Linked DNA regions of Homo sapiens: regions 1, 2, 3 and 5 are each linked to region 4. The links come from fine-mapping of genetic effects on gene expression. A gene starts in region 4. Each other region holds a variant in brackets. All regions are shown on one strand. Distances are between the middles of the regions. Region 1 overlaps COLGALT2 (collagen beta(1-O)galactosyltransferase 2). Region 2 has its middle 86 kb from the start of TSEN15. Region 3 has its middle 110 kb from the start of TSEN15. Region 4 holds the start of TSEN15 (tRNA splicing endonuclease subunit 15). Region 5 overlaps TSEN15 (tRNA splicing endonuclease subunit 15).

The links.
Region 1: its variant is fine-mapped to the expression of TSEN15 in monocytes (BLUEPRINT, PIP 0.95).
Region 2: its variant is fine-mapped to the expression of TSEN15 in whole blood (INTERVAL, PIP above 0.99).
Region 3: its variant is fine-mapped to the expression of TSEN15 in whole blood (INTERVAL, PIP 0.95).
Region 5: its variant is fine-mapped to the expression of TSEN15 in whole blood (INTERVAL, PIP 0.95).

What each region holds. Positions count from the first base shown.
Region 1 is chr1:184,010,948-184,016,053 of GRCh38, reverse strand. The region is part of intron 1 of COLGALT2 (collagen beta(1-O)galactosyltransferase 2); the gene reads left to right. Among named protein-coding and RNA genes, the nearest start is that of COLGALT2, 24 kb to the left of the region's middle. The variant G/A (reference allele first, on the strand shown) is at 2,101.
Region 2 is chr1:184,135,643-184,140,748 of GRCh38, reverse strand. No RefSeq gene overlaps it. Among named protein-coding and RNA genes, the nearest start is that of TSEN15, 86 kb to the right of the region's middle. The variant T/AT (reference allele first, on the strand shown) is at 2,737.
Region 3 is chr1:184,160,152-184,165,257 of GRCh38, reverse strand. No RefSeq gene overlaps it. Among named protein-coding and RNA genes, the nearest start is that of TSEN15, 110 kb to the right of the region's middle. RefSeq lists enhancers at 1,278-1,337, 3,599-3,678. The variant C/T (reference allele first, on the strand shown) is at 2,280.
Region 4 is chr1:184,049,339-184,054,444 of GRCh38, reverse strand. It overlaps TSEN15 (tRNA splicing endonuclease subunit 15), which reads right to left and starts at 2,715. Exons shown (of 5, transcript NM_052965.4): 1 at 2,555-2,715; 2 at 10-91. The coding sequence starts at 2,689. RefSeq lists enhancers at 2,636-2,930, 2,809-2,938, 2,999-3,108, 2,861-3,796.
Region 5 is chr1:184,070,016-184,075,121 of GRCh38, reverse strand. TSEN15 (tRNA splicing endonuclease subunit 15) reads right to left here. Exons shown (of 5, transcript NM_052965.4): 4 at 2,824-2,965; 5 at 910-2,295. The coding sequence ends at 2,275. Among named protein-coding and RNA genes, the nearest start is that of TSEN15, 21 kb to the right of the region's middle. The variant C/A (reference allele first, on the strand shown) is at 2,337.

The DNA.
Region 1 (5,106 bases), 38 kb after region 4:
CACTATGTGTCTATAAATAAAGCCACCCATGACAGTTTGATGCCTGGAGTAAGAATTCATTTTTATAACATCACCTTTGACATTTTAACTTCTTCAGCATATTCACTAAAGCTAATAGTGACTGTCAATAAATTACAGTGAATTAGAATATCTAATATTTAATAGTTTGCCACATCTATGGCATCTACAGCTGGGACTTAGGGACTCCTTATAGTTTCACGTAGATAGCTTTTTACTCAATTTACCAAATTCTCTACACCACAAGGTGTTCTGTGAACTCCCTGGCTTGTCATCTGGCACTAAAGCATCACCTCTCCTTCACATCAGCCCCACAGTTCCTTCTAGAGCATCTTCCCTAACTTTCAACAGAAGAACATCATGGCAGAGGGCCAGGGATCTGTTGCGTGGGATCTCAGAACTTAGAATACTCCATAGGTACCTACACAGGGAGAGTGAGCACAACAGTCTACATTTCACCAAATTAGAAGATGTGCAAACATGCGGAGACATTCTTTCATTTATTCATTCACTACAGATATCAAGAATGTCTCTAATGGCGGGAATTGGACTCTCAGAGTGAGTAAAATACTGCATTTCTCCCCTTGGGAAGCCCAGCATCACAAAAGAAGCACAGTGGGTTGAGGAACAAGGCACTGTTCTGAGAGCCTGGGGGCAATGAGATGAGGTTGGCAACGTTGGTTAGAGCACCTGGTCATGGTAGCCAGACCTAAAAGCAACAGGATAGATGTGTATTTACCTTACATTCACATAGAATATCCCTCTATAACAAACCTTCAGCTCTCATTCTGCCATGTTCCCTACAATCTGATCTGATCTTCTTTAAGACCCTCTTGATACTTTACTTGCTACCAAAGTTTCCTTTGGTCTTCAGTTCCTTCTAGCGTGGACCAATTGCAAATATCTGAGATTCCCTTCCTCTGGCATCTTTTTTTTTTTACCCACTAGAAAAAGCCCAATCCCAGATCCATCCTCCTGCAGTCTCTAGTTCTGAGGACTGTTCATCCCCCAGCCCCATGTCTGTGTTAATTTTGTCACACAGGGTGAATCCCTCCACCCTCAAGTGGGCCCTCAGCTGCCCACTGATCTTTTTGTTTCCCTTGCAAAGCTTGCTATTTACTCTTCTAGATCTACTTACTTCATCATTTCCATGGACATTTTCAGTAGATCACCTTGCTTCTGAATTCATCAATAAAACTAAAGCTAGTGGATGAAAATTATTTCAATTTTGTGACCTCTTCTACTCCTGTTCTTCTGGAAGAGAGATTTCATCCTGTCTAAAGTAAACTTCTCATTTTTACTCTCAATCTCATCCTTTTCCTTGACCCATCCTCCCAGTAGCCTTTGCCTCATCTTCTTCCCTTGTTTAGAATTAATTCAACAGATATTTATTTATTACTTGTTGATATTATACCTCAGGATACAACAGAGAATGAGGCACAGTGCCAGCCTTCAAGGACTTAGAGTCAAACTTCTTGAGAGAATGGTCGACATTTGCCAGTTTAGCATTCTCACTTGCATTCATTTCTCATCTGGTTTCCATAATCAAGTTTCCACACTCACCACTCCACTGAAAGTTTCCTTGCCAAGATCACCATTTAATGAGTAATCCCCCTCATTAAATCCAGTGTCACTTTGACTTCACTTTCTCTTCAGTCCCCTTTCTGCTGCATTCAATCATGTGGACCAGTTTCCTTTTTTATAACAGTGCCTTCGCTCAGATCCATGGTTCCACCTTCCTAATTTTCTTCTTACCTTGCTGTCTTCCCTTTGGCTTACTCATTTCTCAATACATGTTTCTTAAAAGTGGTGTTCCCCTGGGATCTAGATTTGGCTTTCTTTTCGTTGGAAAACCTCACCTCAAGTAGTCTGGTCCGTTCCTGTAGCTTCAGTTACCAAATGTATGCCTATGACTCCCAACTCTCTATTCTCTCCCTGATGGTGTCTCTCCAGCTCAAGACCTAGAGATCTCCTGACATTTTCATGTGAATGGTCCAGAGATTCCTCTAACTTATATCTCAGACTGATCTCTCCACTTTCTCATTCCTTTTCTCAACCAGCTCTGTCTCCTATATTCCCACC[G/A]CCATGCAAGCATTTGCCCAAAACAGAAACATGGACCTCTCCCCCATCATCCATATCAAGTTATTAATCAGTTTTTGTCAGTTGTTCCTACTTAATCCTCTAGATTTTTTTCACTTTTTCCTATCTGTTCTGCCACTTCCTTAGTTCAAGTCACCGCCATCTCCCATTTCCTAATGGATTGCTCTGCCCCTCTGTTTTACCCCCCCTCCCACCAATTCATCCATTATACACACTGGAAGCTACATGACCTTTCTTTAGGTAAAACTTGGCCATATTACTCCCAAACCTTCAAAGACCTTTGAGGGTAAAATCCGTATACCTTGGAATGGCATGCAAGGCCCTTCAAGATACAAGGGTTCTGCCAGTTTCTCCCGCCCCGTCCTTCCCCATTCTTCCCTCATGCTGCAATCATGTTGAACTGCCTTCCACAGGGCCACAACTCTCTCTGGCCTCTGGACCTTTATAAATGCTCTTTTTTAGATTCAGACTACCTCTCCACACCACTTGCCTATTTTTTAAGGTTTGTAACAGACCACACCTTCTTTGAGTAGATTCTTGCAGGTATTGAAATCTGGGCTGAGACCTATTGTGTGCTTTACCGAATCTCCCACAATGCTGTTTTGTTTGTTTGTTTGTTTTGAGATGGAGTCTGACTCTGTCGCCCAGGCTGGAGTGCAGTGGCACAGTCTTGGCTCGCTGCAATCTCTGTCTACCAGGTTCAAGTAATTCTCCTGCGTCAGCCTCCTGAGTAGCTGGGATTACAGTCGTGCACCACCACACCCAGCTAATTTTTGTATTTTTAGTACAGATGAGGTTTCACCATGGTGGCCAAGCTGGTCTTGAACTCCTGACCTCAAATGATCCACCCGCCTTGGCCTCCCAAAGTGCTGAGATTACAGGCGTGAGCCACCGCACCTGGCCTCCCTTAACACTCTTATAACTATTCTTAATTATGTTTACTTTTTTGGATCTGCCCCCTAGGCTCAGCTTCTTGAGGGCCCGCCCTCTTCTTTTTGAATCTCCAGGTTCTAGCACTGAGGTGCCTTATAGGAAGCTGCTCGGTAAATATTTGGGAAAAGGTAAACAAGTTATTGTAATAGATTTTCACATCAATAGCCACTTTATTTATTTGCATTTTATGATAAAACTGAGATCCTCAAAGACAACTGATTGTTTCCTCCTCCAAGTTCCTCAATGGCCTATCTGGTTACAAAGTTAGGATCAAAACAGAGATCACATGCTTTTCTCAAGAACCAGAAAAATTGGGATTCTCTTCTGTGGGAACCATTTTCTTATTTTGCTTTTTTGATGATAGGAATAGACTGCCTTTGAAATGCACAGTGAGGATGAATTTTATGTTTATTAGAATTTCCATGTACACACTGAAAATGTACAGTTTCTTGATTATACTGCTAAGTTCAGTAAAAACAAAGGTTCATTGTTTCCAAGAGTCATCCATACTTATTATGAAAATAGATTCAATCTTTTTTCTCTCTCTTTTAAGAAAAAGAATTTGGAAATGTGATCCAGCATCATGTTTTCATTTTGTTTAAAAGAAAACATATTTTTCCTCTAATAATCCTAGATGCTGTGGGAATAACACACACATGGTTGGCTTTAGATTTGGTGACTATCAAAATCTCTGAATAAATAGTTTCTTTTCTGTGTTTGTATTACTAATACAATATTTTACAGTGTTTTTAAATACTTAGAGAGACATTTGCACAAAAAGGCTTATAAGATTAGTGGATTTGAAAAATCATTTTTACTCATCATCCTAAAGAAGGAGGCAGCAGAAATGCAGGGTTGTGGACCATGATGGTCTAGATGCATGAGAGATTGTGGGAAAACTCTATTCTCTTTTATTTGATATCCTATTTTTCTTTATTCTTTTTTGGGGAAAAGGAGAAATGTCATCCTCAACAGGCATGAGAAAGGACAAAGAAAAATCATTCCTTTTCTGCCCTTTTCCTTCCCTTATTTTCTTATAGTTTTCTTGGAGATTACACAATTATGAATTATAATAAAATATTCTATGGTAAAAGCCAGTGCGAGTGCAGAGAATGTGTAAGATTTTCATTTCCAGCCAAACCCTGCTGGTCAGTTACATTTATTATTGGTTTATGTCACAGTCTGGGAACATATTAACCAACTGCCCAGATTGACACCCACTTACACCTCACATGTAGGTTTTACATATAGGGTTTACACCATCTAAAAGTAGGCAGCCGAGAGAGCTGCCTACTGACTATAACTACGCAATGACATTGAGAGCAAAGGAAGAGTTTGAGATGGTGACCCCTTGAATTACTAAGAGAATGCTCCCTGACCACACGTTTAAATAGTGAAGAAGCATAACAGCCGATTGGAACAAGGAAGCCGGGTTTGCACCTACTGTCTGGCTCCTTAAATCAGAGTAGTGAGGATGGAGGTTGTCTGGGTTTCCTATGTAGCAGATGGCAGTAAACAAGGAAAAGGTTTTCAGCAGACAGATTGGAAGGTAACTGGAGGTTGGAATTACTCTGGAGTGAGTTGGAAAGAAAAAGGAGGTTGTGCATAGTAATCTCTCTCTGGATAATTTATCTTTCCCAGTTAAGTTGTCAGACAACTATGTTGGAGAATGGCCCTGAAATGAAAGCTTTACTGGTCCCAATTCCAGCTTTCATTAAATCGGCTCCCAAAGCAAACCACGGGGCTGGCACCTGCGAGCTAGCATTCACTTTACAGCTGTGAACAGTGTCTTAACGTGCTTGACTCTAGGTAGGGAAATGTACTAAGGAGAAAGAGGAAATGTGGATTTTATTCTGACAAGGCTTTGAATTGTTTCTTGAAAAAGCTGAAATAGCCCTTGGATCTCCATTAGCCTCTTTGGTAGATTGCTGCCACTGGTAATTATATGTCAAGTAATGGCCTCCTCCCCATTCAGAGTCCCTCACTGAGCCACAGCATGATGCCACTGAGAATTAAAAACAGGCCTTCCTCCCCACTGGCCTGTTGTATTTGCTT
Region 2 (5,106 bases), 86 kb before region 4:
TTCACTAAATGTTTTTATGTAGAGCAATAGTTCCAAGATCTTGTTGTGCATCAGAATCACATGGAAAGCTTGCTATAAATAGATTTCTGAAACCCACCCTGGATCTACTGAATACAAAAAGTGGGATGGGGTCATAAGTATTTTTAGCAAGTTTGCCATATGATTTCAGTGCACACCTAAACTTGAGAACCATGCCTCATGCATCTTAACATTATATGTCTGGCATACAGTAGGTACTTAATATATGTTTGATGGATGAATGAGTGAATGTATAAATCATATAAAATAGCACTCTTACAAATAAATTTGTTATTGAGACTAAAGCATTAAAATAAAAATTCATTGGTTATTTACTGCCACAAATATTGAAGACTGGCTGGGCATGGTGGCTCATGCTTGTAATCCCAGCACTTTGGGAAGCCAGTGCTAGAGGATGGCTTGAGGCCAGGAGTTCGCAGCCTGGGCGGCGAAGTGAGACCTCATCTCTACAGAAACATTGTTTAAATGAGCCAGGCATGGTAGCGTGCACCTGTAGTCGCAGCTACTCAGTAGGTTGAGGTGGGAGGATCACTTGAGCCCAGGAGTTGAGGGCTTCAGTGAGCTATGATTATTCCACTACACTCCAGCCTGGGTAACAGAAAGACTTTTCTTTCTTAAAATGAAAAAATTAAACACAAAAATAAATAATTTCATCATGGGAGAGCCGTAATAATAAATTCAATTTATTTGTACAGTGCTATTGCCATGTTTCACTGACGTTATTCAAATTACCGCTAGAATGCCAAAAGGTCACGGATGGATTCTGGAGTCATTGAGAGAGTATATCATACTTGCAGGGTGCACAAGGATTGAGGTAAAGTAATTTTTTAAAGAGATTGAGTCTGCCACCCAGGCTGGAGGGCAGTGGCATGATCATAGCTCACTGTAGTCTTGAACTCCTGGACTCAAGCCATCCTCTTGCCTCAGCCTCCTGAGTAGCTGGGACTACAGGTAGACACCATCATGTCTGGCTAATTTTTAAAAAACTTTTTTAGAGATGAGGTCGTCCTATGTTTCCCAGGCTGGTCTTGAACTCCTGGCCTCAAGCAATCCTCTTACCTCAGCCTCCTGAGTAGCTGGGATTATAGGTGCGAGCCACCATGCCCAGCTCTGGAGTGAAATTATTTTGATGAAAATACAGCATCTTTCTTTTCCTTCCTTCCTTCCTTTCTCTCTCTTTCTTTCTTTCTTTCTTTCTTTCTTTTCTTTTCTTTCTTTCTTTCTCTTAGACAGTGTCTTGCTCCGTCACCTAGGCTGTAGTGCAGTGGTGTGATCATAGCTCACTGCAGCTTCAAACTCCTGTGCTCAAACGATCCTCCCATCTCAGCCTCCCAGGTAGCTGGGACTACAAGCAGACACCACCATGCCTGGCTAATTTTATAGAGACAGGGTCTAGCTGTGTTGCCCATGCTGGTCTTGAACTTCTGGCCTTAAGGTGTTCCCCCACCTCAGCCTCCCAAAGTGCTGGAATTACAGGTGTGAGCCACTGCACCCAGCACAGAGTCTTATTAACACAAAAGTCTTCATGTTACCAAGTGTTATAAGTATCTCTGCATGAGAACTATTTGAGTCAAGAACAATTGCAGGATCATTCACGTAATGAGAATTTATTATTAAATGATAAGTGCTTTACCAGTAGCGAGACTCCCCCAAAGCAAGGACAATTGCAAGTTTTCAGAAAGATGATGCATACCTTCCTGGATACAATATTCTCCTCATTTTCCTCCTACCTTTCTGTGTGCTCCTTCTCTGCCTTTTCAGGCTCATCATCTTCTACTCATTAAACATCACTGTTCCTCAAAGTTTTATCCAGATGCTTTCCCCTTCTCATTCTGTAGAAGGCGTGACCCATCTCCCAGCTTTAATGACCATAGATTTATTCATGGTGCCCAAACTGTTTTCTCCAGCCCAGACCTCTTCCCTGAGTTCCAGTTGGTTATACAGACCATATGAGAAAAGTTTGTAAAACTTAGGCCTAATTTTCATAAGTAAAAGAAAAATATCAGTTAATCTTTTCTTTCATTTTTAATTGATTAAGCATATAGATTATGTAAAGTAACTGATATGCCAGATACATGAAAAGTATCTTGCTATCATATGCCAAGCACTCAATAATAAATAGTGCATGCTGGTTTTTTCTGAAGTTGTTGTATATTACAGCCCTCCAAAGCAGGATATGCATTAAATTTCAAAGCTACACCAAGACATGTATCTAAGCAGATAGTGTCAATCATGCTAAAATGGAACAATACTTGGCCGGGGTCCTGAGCACCTAATCCTGAACCAGTCACCTATGGAAACTTGTCTCAGATTCAGGAGGAAAAAGTACAGATGCAGGGGAAAACATTTTTGTGTATTGTTCTGAAGTTTTAACCCATCTTTTCCTTCCCCACTTGTGATTTAATACCTACTAAGATGTACAGGGTCACCTGATGCCTTTGCCTGGAGAAGGCAGCCAAATAGTCTGGATCAAAATCAAGCACAGTGGCATATTTCCTTGATACCTATATCCAGTTCTGGTCTTGAAGTGCCTACCACTTTGATAACTAGAAAATGCAAAGAGCAAGGAGGCCAGGTGTGGTGGCACATGCCTCTAATCCCAGCACTTTGGGAGGCTGAGGTGGGAGGATCACTTGGGTCCAGGAGCTCAAGACCAGACTGGGCAACAGAGTTAGACCCCATCTCTTAAAAAAAAAA[T/AT]AAGAAAAAGGAAAAAAAGAAAAAAAAATTTAAAAAAAGAAAAAAAAAGGAAAAGAAAAAGGTTAGCTGGGCAAGGTGGTGCATGCCTGTAGCCTCAGCTACTCAAGAGGCTGAGATGGGAGGATAGCTTGAGCCCATGAGGTTGAGACAAAAATAAAATAAAATAAAATAAAAATTCAAGGAGAGATAAATTCAAACAAAAAACACAAGGAGAAAGGGAAAGTTTCTCCCTGTGGCCAAAAGCAGTAGCAGTAGTTACCCCCTTATATCTCCCACCCTTTGCCCTGAATTTCTCAGGATTCCACTGGTATTGACCCACTTCAGATTATTCCAGATAGTGGGATGAGGAGTCTCACACTCACCCGAGAAACTAGAAGGTGCCATTTGTTTGGTGATGAATGCATACATTAAAAAAATATTATATTTTTGAGTGACAAGTATGTGTCAGGTACTGTTCTTGGTGCCAGGCATACATCAGTGATAAAAACTGCCTGACAGCATGGGACCTTTATATTCTAGAATATAAATAAAATATATACTAAGTCAGGTGAAGATAAATCCTATGGGAAAAAGTAAAGTAGGCATGGTGGATAAGGAGTGCCAAGCTATTTCAATAACCCGAGCAAGAAATGACAGTGCTCAAAAATGGTGGATGGAGATTTTTATACTCCACTCTCAATAATTGATAGAACAACTAGACAGAAAAGCAGCAAGGATATAGAAGACTTAAACTTACCACTTGACCTCACTGATATTTATGAAACATTCCACTCAAGGACACCAGAATAGACATTCTTTCAAGCATACATAGAACATTCTCCAGAATAGACCATATGCTAGGCCATAAAAACAAGTTTCAGTAAATTTTGAAGGTTTGAAATAATCAAAAGTATGTTCTTCAAAAACAATGCAATTAAATTAGACAAAAACAGAAGGAAGTTTAAGGAATCACAAAATACTTAAAAATTAAAACACTTCTATCTAAACTGTTTGTCAAATAAAACGGTAGGAAAATTTTTAAATTTTTGAGCTAAACAAAAACACTCAACATATGAAAAATTGTAGGATACAGCTACAGCAGTGATTAAAGTTCAGGAAATATAGAGTTATACATGCCTACATTAGGACAGAAGAGAGATATTAAATCAATAACCTAAACACCCACTATAGGAAACTAGAAATAGAGAAGCTAACTAAACCCAAAGCAAGCAGAAGAAAGGAAGTAATAAAGACAAAACTAGAAAACAATGAGATAGAGGTGGAGCCAAGATGGCCGAATAGGAACAGCTCTGGTCTACAGCTCCCAGCTTGAGAGACACAGAAGACAGGTGATTTCTGCATTTCCACCCGAGGTGCCGGGTTCATCTCACTAGGGAGTGCCAGATAGTGGGTGCAGGACAGTGGGTGCAGCACACCGGGTGTGAGCCGAAGCAGGGGGAGGCATTGCCTCACTCGGGAAGTGCAAGGGGACAGGGAGTTCCCTTTCCTAGTCAAAGAAAGGGGTGACAGACGGCACCTGGAAAATCAGGTCACTCCCACCCTAATACTGCATTTTTCCAACGGACTTAAAAAAAGGCACACCAGGAGATTATATCCTGCACCTGGCTCGGAAGGTCCTATGCCCAGGGAGTCTCGCTGATTGCTAGCACAGCAGTCTGAAATCAAACTGCAAGGCAGCAGTGAGGCTAGGGGAGGGGCGCCTGCCATTGCCCATTGCCCAGGCTTGATTAGGTAAACAAAGCAGCCTGGAAGCTCCAACTGGGTGGAGCCCACCACAGCTCAAGGAGGCCTGCCTGCCTCTGTAGGCTCCACCTCTGGGGGCAGGGCACAGACAAACAAAAAGACAGCAGTAACCTCTGCAGACTTAAATGTCCCTGTCTGACAGCTTTGAAGAGAGTAGTGGTTCTCCCAGCACGCAGCTGGAGATCTGATAACAGACAGACTGCCTCCTCAAGTGGGTCCCTGACCCATGAGCAGCCTAACTGGGAGGCACCACCCAGTAGGGGCAGACTGACACCTCACACGGCCAGGTACTCCTCTGAGACAAAACTTCCAGAGGAACAATCAGGCAGCAGCATTTGCGGATCACCAATATTCACTGTTCTACACCCACCGCCGTTCTAGAGCCACCGCTGTTCTGCAGCCACTGCTGCTGATACCCAGGCAAACAGCGTCTGGAGTGGACCTCTAGCAAACTCCAACAGACCTGCAGCTGAGGGTCCTGTCTATTAGAAGGAAAACTAACAAACAGAAAGGACATCCACACCAAAAACCCATCTGTACGTCGCCATCATCAAAGACCAAAAGTAGATAAAACCACAAAGATGGGGAAAAAACAGAAAAGAAAAACAGGAAACTCTAAAAACCAGA
Region 3 (5,106 bases), 110 kb before region 4:
GCAACCATCACTACAGTCTATCTCCAAAATGTCTTCCTTTTCCCAAACTGAAACTCTATAAGCATTAACGGGTAACTCCATTCCCACAGCCCCACAGCTCCTGGCAACTATTATTCTATTTCCTTTCCCTATGGATTTCACTCTTCTGGGAATTAATCATTCTTACCAGGGTACTGTTGAGAGTTGTGCTAATAATTTACTGACTTTCAGATTCAAATTCACCCTTCAATACCTGCTCTGCAATAATGGACGGAATTCCATTGGGCATTTCTTCTTTACAGAGAAAAAATGATTTGATCATTCACCATGTGAAGCTTTCTCAGTAGAGGGCCCTGATGGGACATTACAGGAGAAAGGAGCCTTCCTGGTGTTAGTGGTGGCTGCACCATCAGGCAGCAGTGTGGGTGTGGGAACATCAGTGGTGTTCTAATTCCAGCCACAGGCCCAGAACTCATGATTCCTTGATGTCCTTGCAGCTCTGTCCTGGCCTAATGCCCACTTTCCCATGGCCTTCTTACCACAGACACTGCAGGCTCCAGACCTCCTTGTCTGCAATGGTGTCCCTACTCCCTCTGCATGCTCACGTGCCAAGCCATTGGCTGCAGTTTTTGTAATGTGCCACCTGTGCCCCAGAGGGTTGCTTCCTGCTTGCCCAGTGGCTGCAGACCAGCTCTGGCCTGGGCAAATCAGCAAACTTCTCTGCCATCCAGTGGTTGCAATCTGAGCCTTGGGGAAGGGCTCATCCTGTTTTATGTTCATCCTGTTTTATGTTTTATGTTCATCCCTCCTTGGGTACTCTCTTGGGTACTCAGCCTTAGGGTACCACATAGAGTTATCTTATATATTATAATTGCTCTTTTAACATAATTTTAAAAAATTTATATTAAACTTTCTCTGTTTAAGTCACTGTGGTTTCTGCCCCCTCATGGACAAAGACTGACACAAAAGTGAAAGGGGCAGGGTGACAGATGTCAACAAGGATAGGCCGGCACATACTGGCATGTGTGGTCACCTACCCTAGAGATGGGAGGGTGGGTCCTGACTACGCTGGAGGCTCTGATTTATTTCTGAAGTTCAGCTATTTATTTGCCCTTGAGTTTTGAGACAGGCCTATTTCTTAAACTAAATTATATCTCTTTGCTTTTGGAGAGCTCAAGTGTGTTTCTGTTACTTGAAACCAAAAAAGCCATCATTAATAAATATGCAATTTCACATTCTATTAAATATGCCTCAGAAAAGGAAATAAAGGGATAAAGAAGGACTATTCTAGAAGCAGAAAAAAAAAAGGAGAAGGGAGATTATGCTGAGGATTAACATGAGAGAAAATCCTAGTTCTTTAAATATCTCAGTTGGGCTTGATGCTGATGTTAGGGCTTCAAGTTCTTCAGAGATGACTCATCCCTGTCATCTCTGACTGATGGGGAGCTCACACAAGGGAGCTAGATGGGGCACTGGCCAAGTGATTCTGCATGCAAGAGAGCATGGCTGAGGTCAAATGAGGCCTCCTACTCTTCACCCAAACTAGACTTTGGGAACTGCTCACCTCATGTATCTGAGAGAAGAGTTAGGTACGCAGAGCCCACCCAAATTCACCAGCTATAGCCAGTTGCAAGGACTAAGGCTGCTTCATAAATGAACCGCAATGGGACAGAGTGAAGGCCCACACCTTGGCAGCATGCTCCCAGTGAAGGGAATGCGTTGGGCTGGTTTCACTCTGCAGAGTCAATTCCTACCCATTAATAAAGCATGTCCTAGTAAATATTACACATTTGCCAATCAGACTTGCCATTTGTTTGCTTGTTTGCTTGTTTTTTGAGGCAAGGTCTCACTCTGTCCCCCAGGCTAGAGTGCAGTGGTGAGATCTCAGCTCACTGCAGCCTTGCCCTCCTGGTCTCAAGCAATTCTCTCACCTCTCAGCTAGTAGCTGGGACTCCAGGCACATGCCACCATGCCCAAGTAATTTTTGTATTTTTTGGTAGAGATAAGGTTTTCACTATGTTGCCCAGGCTGGTCTCAAACTCCTGAGCTCAAGTGATCCACTCGCCTCGGCCTCCCAAAGTGCTAGGATTATAGGCATGAGCCACCATGCCCAGCCCAGAGTTGCCATTTTTGTCTGAGGGAGGCAGACAAATCCATATGGGTCTGTAGCAGCCTCACTTCTTGACTCCCCAGAAGAAAGAACTCCACAGAGGGGTATAAGGCAGAGGGAAACACTGAAGCAAGTTTTAGAGCAGGAGTGAAGGTTTATTAAAAAGCTTTAGGCCGGGCACGGTGGCTCA[C/T]GCCTGTAATCCCAGCACTTTGGAAGGCCGAGGTGGGCGGATCATGAGGTCAGGAGATGGAGACCATCCTAGCTAACACTGTGAAACCCTGTCTCTACTAAAAATACAAAAAATTAACCGGGCATGATGGCGGGCGCCTGTAGTCCCAGTTACTCGGGAGGCTGAGGCAGGAGAATGGCGTGAACCCGGAGGCGGAGCTTGCAGTGAGCCGAGATCACGCCACTGCACTCCAGCCTGGGCAACAGAGTGAGATTCCGTCTCAAAAAAAAAAAAAAAAAAAGAAGAAGCTTTAGAGCATGAACGAAAGGAAGTAAAGTACACTTGGAAGAGGCCCAAGGGGGCGAACTGAGAGATCAAGTGCACAGTTGGACCTTTTGACTTAGGGTTTTATATGTTGGCATGCTCCCAGGGTCTTGCATTCCTTCTCCCGGATTCTTCCCTTGGGAGGGGCTGTCCGTATGTGCAACAGCCTGCTAGCATCTGGGAGGGGAGCATGCGCAGTGTTTGTACTGGAGTTGTACACATGCTCACTTGAGGCGTTCTTCCCTTACCAGTTGCATGTCCTTAGAAGGTCATATACCAGTTAAGTTGCGCCATTTTGCCTTAGTGCACATGCTAGAGCCTACCCGCCCAACTCCTGATATCTTATCAGGAAGCTGCTGATCACCGGTTTCAGGTGTTTTCTATCTATTGGGAGACTGCCTTTCCCTGGGCTGGCTACAACCAATTATTAATGTTATGTTTAGAGAAATATTGTAACAACCACCTAACCATCACCTGATGGTCGCCTGACTTTCCTGGTGGGGCAAGGGGAGTCCTTTCCTGCCATGCTTATGTCTGACTAGCTACCTACTGTAACAGAGCCTCCCTCCCTGCACTTCCTCTCATGTTAAGATAGGACTGAAATTTTGGTGTCAATCCCCTCCTCCATGAGCCAAGATGAGAATTTAAGGAGTCAAAAGGAACACAAATATTCCTCCTTTTCAATAGTTAACTTTTACCTTACCTATTCAAATACAGGGATTTTTTAAAAATTCTGCACAGAATATTTGGTGAATTATAATAATCATGCCTGGAATCATTTTTATCTTTCAATGCACCTTTTCTTCAGAGTAAAAAAATGTTACATCAGTCCTTAGTAGAGTATGCAACTTGAGATGCTTTTGCTATGAATGGAGAGAATCTAAGTAGACTTATTCACTTTCTTTTATCTAGAAGTGCAAAGTTGGATAAGACGTGGTCTTTGCCTTTTAGAAAGAGGGGCACTTCCATTCACATTGTGTTTCTTTTGGCTCTGCTATGGAGAACAATAATTAAATAAGGTTCTGACCAATCAGAATGGATGATGAAACAAGAGTGGGTGCTGCAACCAGTCGGAGCTGATGTCACAGCTAATGACAAGGATGCTGGCTGTACACATGAAGCAGGCTGCGCAGTATGTTACAGTGGAGGTTATCTCTGGATCTGTGAGAACCCAAGTCTAAGCTGGTAGAAAGGACTGTGGGAGAGTCCCTGGCTGACTTCAGTCAAATCTTCCTGTCAAGTTGATGGCATTCAAAGATAGTAAAAAACTGGCAAGTAGTTGGGGATTTTTCAAGAATATTTCCCCCTGCAGCCTCCTCCTCCCATAGCTTTAATCATCTCAGTACATTGCAACACAGCTTTTCTAGTTGCTCTTTCCAAAATTTCTCCTCTTTTACTCTAACATCCTACATTTGCATTGTAAGCAAATCCTGACAACTCCACCTTCAAAATATGTCTAGAATCTGACTAGTTTTCAGCACTTCTATTAACTATGTTTCCTGGCCCAGCCACCCTCATTTCTTGCCTGGATCACTGGAATGTCTTTTTCACTGGTCTCCTGCCCCACTTCAGTCTATTCGTAATCTGACAGCCAGGGTGATTTCATTAAAATAGAGTAGGATTGTGTTGCTCCTCTCCTGGAAACTCTCCAATGGCTTCTCATCTTAGAGTAAAAGCCAAAGGTCTTACCCTGGCCTACAAGGCCCCACATTTTCTAGATCCCCATTATCTCTCTGACTGTATCTCCTACTAACTCAATGTGGCAGACTGATGGCAAATCTGGTCCTAATTCTCCACCCTTCACTATATTCACACCTTTTGCAATGTGACTCTGAAGCTCTTCCTATGAAGTGGAGTTTATTTCTCCATCCCTTGAAACTAAACTTGTCTTATCAATTGCTTTGGCCAATAGAATGTGGCAGAAGTGACAGTCTCCATTCTGAACTTAGGCCTTAAGAGGGCTTATGTGTGTTCTCTCTCTCTCTCTCTCTCTCTCTCTAGCCTCTCTCCCTCCCTTTCTCTCTCTGACTCTCTTTTGCTACTGGAGGATATGAGAAACAGAGATATGGAAGCAGACCTAAATCAACCCAGTCATCTTGTCAAAACTCTCAGATATGTAAGAGAGCTCAGATAAGATCAGCAAAGCTGTGCTGGCTTGCAGCTGACTGTGAAAGCATGAGTAAGCCCCACCAAGATCAGCTCAGATCAGCAAAACCATCTAGCTGATCTTGAGACTGAGGGGAAAACCTAAATGCTTATTACTGTATACCACTGAAATTTTGAGTTTGCTTGTTACTCAGCATTATTGCGAAATTGATGACTGATGCGTTACTTTGCCCATTATTCTCCAGCCTTCTGGAAAATGCCAGTCACCTCTCTACCTCAGAGTCTTTGCACTGGCTGTTCCCTCTGACTAGAATACTTCCTCTCAGTCTTCCTACCTCCAATAGCTGCATGCCTTGATCCCTAACCAACTTCAAATCTTTTCTCAAATGTCATCATCTTAGTGAGATCTTGTCAGGAC
Region 4 (5,106 bases):
ACAACTTACTTTCCATGAGGTCCAGGTAAACCAAGAACGCTACATAAACTTGGGTGGCATCTCCTATATCTAATTCCATCATTTCTAGATACTGAAAATTAAAATATAATTGTCAAATTGAGAAGAAAAAATTATTTAATATTTTCTTCCAATCATCAAGTGGTCATCAAGCATATATAATCTATAAAATTCTTCTAGGTATAGTGGAAGTTAAAAGGCAATATAAGATCTTATCTCTGTCTCTAAAGAACTTGCAATTGTTAAATACATGCACACTTAAAATTGTTAGGCAAATAACAATATATGACTGTAAGTGATTAAAAACCATGTAAATGGAATAAAAAACATGACACAGCAGGTCAGAAGAGCTCTACTCAGAGGGACTGGTGAAAGATTTATAGCAGAGGTGGGATGGGATACAAGTTGAGCACTGAAGAACATTATGATTTAAGTAAGTGGAGAAGTAGAGTAATACTGCAGGTAATTACACAAAGGTGGGATTAAGCCACATACATTCAAGGGCCTGTAAAGAAACCTATCTGCCAGCAATAGAGAAACCTTTTTAATAAAACTTGTGATGGGACATGTTAGTGGGTACTGTGTATTTCCCTAGCCTCTTATTTGTATATGGAGAGAATCTGCTAGAGTATCAGTCCTAGCCTCTCTACCCACTCTTTCTCACTTTAAGAGTAGATTTTTTAAAAGGAATTGACAAGGAACTAGAGAAAGCTGCTTCTTTCAGACTACTGGTCAGCATAAGGGGAATACTTTTCAGGGGCCTACACCTGCAGGAGAATTCTGAGGCTGCCCAGCTATGCCAGCGACTAGGTGGATATGCAGGGCTAATGCTGAGTTGAATTATTAGCAGACCTGCATGGGGACAGGTCTAAAGTCACATTCTCCCATCAGCTTCACTGTAACTGTACAGGTTCAGGAGGACAGGGGTTAATTAGTTGTCGACTTCAAACATGTTTTGAAAATAACACCCAAAACATAATTTTGAGCCAGGTTACAAGGCTTTGGTGGTCAAGCTAAACATGTGATTTTATCAGTATGGAAACACTGAGGATTTCTAAGCAGGAGAATAATAAAATAAAAGTGTGTTTGGGGATAATAAATCTGGTACCATTTTACTGGATGAAACTACATAATTTTTAAATTAACAGAAAGGTGAAATTGGAAAAACAAATACCCCCTATTATTTTATTACTTGTTCTTTTTCTTTTAAAAATTAATTTGATCCTTCAAGAAGAGAAATCAAAAGGGGAGATTTGATGGTCAAGGTGTATACAGCCATTAACTTGAAAAAGAAAACAATCTACAAGTATATAAACTGAATAACACCACCAAATCTAGATAAAGTCTTAAAAAGTTGTTACTGGTGTTTCGCTTATTAAGTACTTATATAGTGCTTTCTGTATGTTGAATGGCTTACAAATATTCATTAATTTAATCCTGTAACAACCGTATAAGTAAGTATGGACTATTAATATCCCCATTTTTCAGGTGAGGAAACTAAGGCATAATAAGATCAAGCAACTTGTCCCAAATCACAAGGTTGATAAGTGACAGAATCAGGATTTAAACTGAGTCTGATTTTGAGTTCATGCGCCTAACCAATATGCTGCCTCTCCATGCTATTGTTTCCCTAAAAGGGCACTAAATAATATTTCCATGCTATTGTTTCTTTTTCTCACCTTTTGGGAGGATGAAGGGGACAGAGTAGGAAGATAAAATTAAGCAAGAGAAGCTGAAAAAGGTTAACTCTTCAAACTTATACCTTCAAATTTTTTCTTGGCTGTTTTTAGATGATTATGAATTATTGCTCTCTAGCAGAAGAGTGCAATTCTGTTAAAGTACCGTAGAGACTAGTTTTTGAGATTCTTACAAAACCCACATCTCCATTCACTGTCTATTCACTGCTTGGAACCGTACTTGTACAAGGCAGTAATGTCTCAAGCAGAAGTAAGCAGAGGACTATCTTGATCTCGCCTGCTGCTAATCTAGAAAAATACACGCAAAATGTGAGTAGCTCTGCTTTGAGCAAGAACCTATTCAAACTTTCGAAGAAATCTGAAATATTAGGAATCTGCACCTTTTCAAAATAAAGATGCATTCTGGGCCCAAGGCTAAGTGTAAACGTGACTGTGCTTAAATCTTTATCACTATGGACCCCTAGATCTTATCCATCGCCCACAAATTGTCTTGCATGGTTACCGTGAGGATTAAATAAATTTATCCCCCAAAGGGGATTTACCTAGACAGCAAAACTAGTGGAGCGCTTATTAGGGATCTCCGGCTTGAGAGGGGCGGAGTTACTGTCTGGCTCTCAGTTCCAAAATGGCTTTGGCTGGGGGATTGAGATAGTGCAACTTGTTTAAACAAACAAAACCGATGCTGCCTGAGGCTGGCAGTTGTGCACACCGGTCCCCCTCGGTGAGGGTGGCGCGCGTCCTCAGTCTCCCACTGAGGAAGAAAGAAAGAGAGCTGCCTGGGAGTGTTCTGCCTGGGTTAGGGGCCTGGACGGCGCCCTGCTCCTCTCGCGCCTCCTGACCTTAGGGTGAGTGCCCATCCAGGCGTCCTCAGGGGCCCACGAAGGAGCTCCACCGCCGTCGCCAAAGCCGCGAACACCGCCCGGACCCAGGCCGCTGCAGCCGGGGGTCGGCTCGGAATCGCCGCGCTCCTCCATGCCGGCCGGTGCGGCGCTCCCGTGGTGCACCACGACCCGCGCCCGGCCAGAAGCAGCGGCGCGCGCGCCTGTGGGTTCCGCTTCCCCGAGGCTCGCAGCTGCAGTGCGAGAGGGCTCAGAAACTGGGAGGAAAGTTGCATCAGCCCCTCCTTCTGACCAAGGTAGCTAGAACCTGCGCGAACGCTCTCTAGTTTCGCTCTGCGTTTATTCAAATCTGAGCAAATTCTAACGTGAAAAATATTAAAGAGTAGCCTGCGCCCTGAAGCTCTTAATCCTCTTTAAGTCAGTGCTGCCGATAACTCTCTGAGAAAGTTGGGGGATACATACGTCCTCTTTGCCTTCAGCAGTGGGGTCCTGGTTTCTGATTGCTGGGGACGGGAAAGGCCTTACTCAGTGCCCTGACATAGAACTTTAAAGTAGAACCATACTTTCAGGGTGGACCCACGTTTCAGGATTAGAGGAAACACGAGTTGCTGAACGAGTGTTCAGAAAGGTAGGATACAAACTAGCATAAGCATGTGATCTGGAAGCCAAGGATGAGGAGTTTCAAACAGGCAGAGTAGCACATTTTAAGTATTTTTTAATTTACTGTGAGTGAAATGGGAAGCTATTGGAGGCTCCTGGACGTTTTCATAGGATCACTCTGACTGATATGTTGAGGATAGACTGGAGGGAGCAAGGACACAAACAGAGACTGGTTAGGAGGCTATCGCATTGACCAGGACAAGGGTGACTCAAAATCCAAAGTCCCAGGCAGGACATAACTTCTGTTTTCAACCATGATAGACTAAGACCCTAGTGGACCATCCCCCAGCAGAAAACAATTTGGACACAATGCAAAAAGCTGAATATACTGGAATGTGAATAGTGGACTGGTAGGAAGGGCAAGCTTGCTTGAAGATCAGGAACTACACTTGGACACAATACAAAAAGCTGAATATACTGGAATGTGAACAGCAGACTGGTAGGAAGGGCAAGCTTGCTTGAAGATCAAGAACTCCACAAGAAAATTCTCCTCTCTTTGGCATTTAGCTTGGGGCAAAGTGCAGTCCAGAAGTCAGGCTCAGCAGTACCAGGGATGCATGTATAAAACTTATCAGTTATTCTTGTCTGGGGAAGCAGAAAAGTGAAGACAGAAAATTTTGAATTCTGAAGAGATTAAGAAATCCCAAGGAAGGAGTCAGAGAGTGGATCCCCAAACTGTCAACCCACATCTCTGAGAGATCCTGAACCACCCAAAACAGAATCACAGCAGCTCAGTTAAAAACAAAAGATCTGAACTGAGACCAGAGCTGTCTCCAAAAGGGAGAGAGTTTTCAGTTAAAATCTAGCCGGGAAAATTACCTACTAATACAAAGGAAATAACACTCATCAGAGAAGAATAATAGAATCCAGACTCTCCACTTAACACTCACAAAGTCCAGAGTACTATCCAAAACTATCTGACATATGAAATTCAAGGAAATGGATCGCATACTCTAGAGATCAACCCTGAGATGAATCAGATATTGAAACTGACAGATAAGGATTTTAAAGTGACTATTATAACTATCCTCAATGAAGTAAAACATGTTTTCAATGAATGAAAATCTCAGGAGACAAATAGAAAATCTCAGCAAAGAAAAAGAAAAAAAAAGATTTTTAAAACCAAATGGAAATTCTGAAAATTGAAAATTATAATTTTAGAAATAAAAAATTCACTGGGTGAATTTAACAGCCAAAAAAAATTACAAAAGAAAAAGTAGGGAACTTGAAGATAGAGCAATAGAAATTATTAAAAGTAAACAACAAAGAGAAAAATTATCTTTAAAAAGTGAGTAGACCAACAGAGATTTGCTACATGTCAGACAATCCAACATGCATGTAAACAACAGAAGTAGAAAAAAAAAGGGACAGAAAAAATTTTTGAAGAAAGAGTGGTGGCCAGAATTTCCCCAAATTTGATGAAAAACACATTTACTAGTACAAAATGCTAAATACATAGCAACTAAAATAAACACAAAGAAGTCTACATTGTAATAAAACTATTGAAAGTCAAAAAAATAAAGAGAAAAGCTTGAATGCATCAAAAGAAATAACACATCATACACAGGGAAAAGAAGGGCATCTATTATTGAATGAAATGTAAAGCCACACATGAAGATTCATATGTTGCCCTCAAATACATTACATTTGAATGAACCTTTGCCACCACAAAGCAGCTGCTAAGCCCGAAAGAAGAAAATGGCACTGAAATTAATTGGGTCATTGAAGCATGAAACACTGACACGAATTCAAGTGATTGGAAGTGAATAAATCTCTCTGACTCCTAAAGATCCAAATCAGTTCATATGATGGCATTTTTAAAAGCATTAAGAGTATTTTGATGCTAATCTGAGTAGAGGGAAACTTTTATAAATCAGTAAGGATATCCAATG
Region 5 (5,106 bases), 21 kb before region 4:
GTTATATAGGAGCCCACTGGTCAACAGATCCGACACACAAATCTGACATTATCCTTACACTTCTTTCTGAAAATGCTATTTTTCTAGAATTATAATGAAAGACCTCAAAATGAATCAAACGAGAGACTTAAGAAATCAAGAGACCCTAAGAATTTATCATAAACTGTTTGAGGATTCTTAGACCTGCAAATTTTCCACTAGAGTCACCCAAACACATATTGTTCTGAATAGGTCCATCTTCATGTCCTCTGGGGAAGCAGAGGGAGCCTGAAGGAGTTATGGAGACCTCCCACCAAGAATAAAAGTGAAATTCAAATACCATCAAAGGAAGGAGTCAGGAATGACTACAGATGAAGAATGATGCTTTATACTATTTTGTGATGTTCCTAATTTTCATCATTTTTCCATTCTTGTTATTGTTGTTTCCTAATCAGCCATGAAACCCTAGTGTGTAGGCAGGACCTATGACCTGCTTCCAATCAACAGAATACGGCAAAGGTGATGGGATGTATGTGATTACATTATATAAGGATTATAAGGTCCATCTTGCTGAGACTCTCCTTTGCTGGCTTTGAGGAAGCAACCAGTTATATTGAGAAGGCCCACGTGGCAAAGAGCTGAGGGTGGCCTCCTGCCAATGGCATATAAGCATTGAGCACTCTCAAGAAATTGAAGGCTACTAATAACCATGTGGGTGAAAAAGCTGACCCTTCCCCAGTCAAGTCTCAGATGAGACTGGAGCCCTGCCCAACACCTTGACTGTAGCCTCATGGAGGACCCAACTAATCTGTGCCCGGGTCCCTTGCCCACAAAAACTATAAGATAATAAATGTGTGCTGTTTTAAGTTGCTACATTTGTGGTAATATTATTTTGCAATGATAGATAACTAATACAGATTTCAAGACACCTTTTAATTTTAAAACATTTTTATTATAAAATACAAATAAAAACATTGAGAAAAGACAAAGTCATCCATTTTCTGCCTCCTATCCCACTATAACCAGTTAGTAATTTGATTTACTTTGTTATCTTTTTATCATATGCTTGGTCTGTTATTTCAGCCATGATTACACCCACTTATACACTTTTCCGTCTTGCAATTTTTACTTAAGGTAATATTTTCATGTTTTTAATAATATTCATTACTAATTTTTAATAAGTACATTATGTATCATTTGTATATATCTGTTTATTGACTATTTCCTAGACCCAGGGATGACAAACTATGGCACCACATTTGTAAACAAAGTTTTACTGGAACAAAGCCACGCCCGTATTGTTTATGTATTGTCTATGGCTGCTTTTGTGCTTCATACAGCAGTGTTGACAAGTTATGACAGAGACAGTAGGTTTAAAAACCTAAAATAGTTACTTTCTGGCCCTTTATAGAAAAAGTTTGCCAATCTTTACCCCAAACTTTAAAGTGGTTTATAATTTGGGCTACTAAAAGTAATGTCACTTGGAACATCTTTGTGCATATAATTTTTTATACTTTGTACAATTTGAGAGACATTAACAAAAGTGGAATAACTGGGTCTAATTAATGAAGACATTTTTACGGTTGATTCTCTCCCACACTGTTGTAATATTCAAGCTATGATATGTGATAAGAATGAAAAGGATAGCCCAGAACTCTTGTAGGTAACATGTCTCTGGTCCCTGTTACTTAAGACACGTAAGTTACTTAAGACACACTCTGGATGAACATATTTTGAGTTTTGATTTAAAGTTAACCAAAAAAGAGAAATAACAGTAACTGCAATGGGAAGACCAATTGAAAGAAATCTTTTACTTTTTACTGGAGAGGAAAAAGTAAACAGAAGTGGGTGACAAGGTACATATAAAATGCCATTCTACGGTAGCTGCAGTGGCCAAAAGGCACTGGGGAGAGCTGAGTAAGAGAAAGAAATGGCAGTCTCAACAATGAGCTGGCAGTGGCAGCAAGAAACAAAGAGACAACTTTGAGTGTGGGATGACAAAAGCAGCACACAGGTCCCACCCATCTGAATACATCCTAGGCATAAACCTGTATATAACTGTAATTAAACTGTCTCTAGATAACAAAGTTTTAAAGAAATCACCCTATATTTTTTAAGAAGGAGAAAGTCTTCTACCTGGGGAAGTTTTACTCTTCAGAATGAAAACCTTATGGAATGGGGAAGTCAACCCTCACTATGTACGTCAACCCTATTTCTGAGATAAAAGATGAAGCAGTCTGATGGGTCTCAAATCCAATCTTGTATGAATAAAACAAGCATCAGGAAACATGGATGTCATCTTCTAAGAGAAATATTCTGGAAAAAAAAAAGATCAGGATGGACTTTTCTCCGATAAA[C/A]AATGTAATCCAAAAGCAAAATTAGAAAGATATTTAATGTAATTATCCAAATTATACCAACAAAGTATGTAAAGAAATCACATATAGCACATTTATCTTATTAAAATGTTCCTGTCAAAATGTCAACCAATTTAACATTTCTTAAATAAGCGTTTTTTTACTTACAACTATTATTAGCCTTTACATTCCACCTCAGCTACTCACTAAATAATTAAATGCATGATGACTTCATAAAATACTTTGGAAAACCATGAAATTCTCCAAAGAGTAAGGAAATCAATTTTTTTTTTGCAAAAATAACTAGGAACATGCTACTTTGAACAAAATATAACCAATTTTCTGACGTCTGAAAATCAAGACTTTTTTTCTTGAATTTTCCCTATGGCAAAGGAAGTGGCAGTTCTGTGACTGACTTGAGTCACACTTAAAATCACGTCATAATTTTCCTCTTTTTGTACTTCTTGCTGTCAGTTACCTCAAAACTGACCTGAGGGTCTGGCAGCATAAATCCATCAGTAAGTTTATAATAGACTATTGTAGAATCAGACTCCACTATGGCCAAAGTAAAAGACATCGGCAAATCTGGATCACCTTGCAACTTTCGAGATGCCTTCAAGATCTCCCTTATCCTGAAAATAAAGTCACAATATACTTAGGAGTTGCGGTCACTCAATTAGATGAGATGTGACAGAAGAAAGCACTAGAAAACTTGAAAACAGGTCACAAGAAACCAAACTGAAGTAAAAAGAGAAAAAATAATTTTAAAAAATAACATCAGAGTCTTCTGGTATAGTATCAAATAAGTTCAACATTACACATAATTGGAATCACAGAAGGAAAGGAAAGAGAATGGTATAGAAATAGTTGACAGTTTTCCAAAATTGTTGTCTCTGAATCTGAAGTGTATCTTTTGTAGATAGCATATAGTTGGATCTTGTTTTTATATCCAATCTGACAATCTCTGCCCTTTTGAGTGTTTATTCAAATTTAAAATTAACATTGGTATGGTTGGATTCATGCCTGCCATTTAGCTATTTGTTTTCTATATATCACATGTCTTTTTACTTCCTCTCACCCTCCTTTATCACCTTCTTTTCTATTAAATAGGTATTTTCTAGTACACCATTTTAATTAATGTATTTTTTTTTACTATAGTTTCTTGAGTTTCGTAGTGATGACTCTAGAGATTACTATTGCGTCTTAGTTTATCACAATTTCTCTCAGCTTAATACTAACTTGATTCTAAAAAATATAGAAATTGCTCCAATAGAGCTTTATTCCTTTCCTCCACCTTTATGCTATTATTGTCATATATGTTTATATATTTAAACCCAGTAATATAGTGTTGTAATTATTACTTTAAATAATTTTCTTTTTATAAAGTTAAGAGGAGAAAGGAAAATATATTAGGGTCTTTTACATTCACATATTTAATATTCCTGGTATTCTTCATTTCTTCACATAACTGTCTGGTGTCATTGTTTACTCCAATATAGCTTCATTCCTTCCCCCATCCTTTGTGTTAATAACATCATATAAGTTACTTCTTAACGTGCTATAAGGCTGGTCAGTTGATTTTTGACAAAGGTACAAAGGCAATTCAATGGAGAAAGTCTTTTCAAGGATACTTGAAATGAAGATAGTAGTACACCTTTATGTTTACACATAAGATTATTATATGAATCAATTAAATGGCATATATGAAAAGACTTCATAAACTGTCAAGTGGTCATATTATGTAGTATATATACAACTTTGCTACCTTGCAAATTGGGATATAATATTTATAGATACCCCTGCCTCCATGATTATTGCTAAAACTGAATACTAACCCAAACATACTAAGGTACACTGTGCCATTAGTGGAAATACAGAAAATGTTTCTTTTCTGAAACAGTCTGAATCCCAGAAATTGACTTAGTCCTTAAAAAATTATTTCCACCTATGCTGAACTGCATTACAACTAGCTAGATTCTTATTCACAAGAATGATTTACTTTAGAGAAAGATATTCTGATAAAGCAACGATAGATATTAATCAGAAACTTCATTACTCAGCACTGATGGGAAGTCACACTGTGATAAAAGGCAGCATATCACAATTGCTTCTTCAATGCAAATCTTTTAATGTAGCTAAGTATTTTCCTTCTTCAAAAGTGGCACGCCAATATCTAAATTAATAATAATAGAAAAAGATACATTTTTATAGGCTGTCCATCTTGAATTAATTTTTTTCTACAAAGATGGCAAAGAAGAAACAGACAATGGATCAACTAAAATTTTAACTTATCTACATCTTTTGTTGTCAGCATGTATCATGATTACTTCACAGTATGCAATATACATAAAACCCAATATATAATGCACATAAAGCCACTTCAATGCCACAAGATAAATTTCTCTAAACATCCCTAACTGGTAGACTGTGATGAGAATGGGACACAGACAAGAAGGAAGCCTGTTAACACAACTTTAACACATTTTCCATTTCTGAAGATATAATGTTATTTAAATCAGAAGGTGTGTTTGTATGTGTGTGTTGGGGGGTGGTGTTCACTAAGGAAAACTATATGGGAATTGTAGCCCATATAGTGAAATTTAGAATAGAAATTTCCATCTTATTCACTACTCTTTTTCCATTCTCAATTTATATCTGTTTCCAGAGTTCTTTGATTTAAGCAGCAAAACATTTTCATACTTACCCCAAATACCCATGCAGGAAACCCTAACATTTGAAAACTAACTCAGAGTTGTAAAAGGGGTTTTGTTTT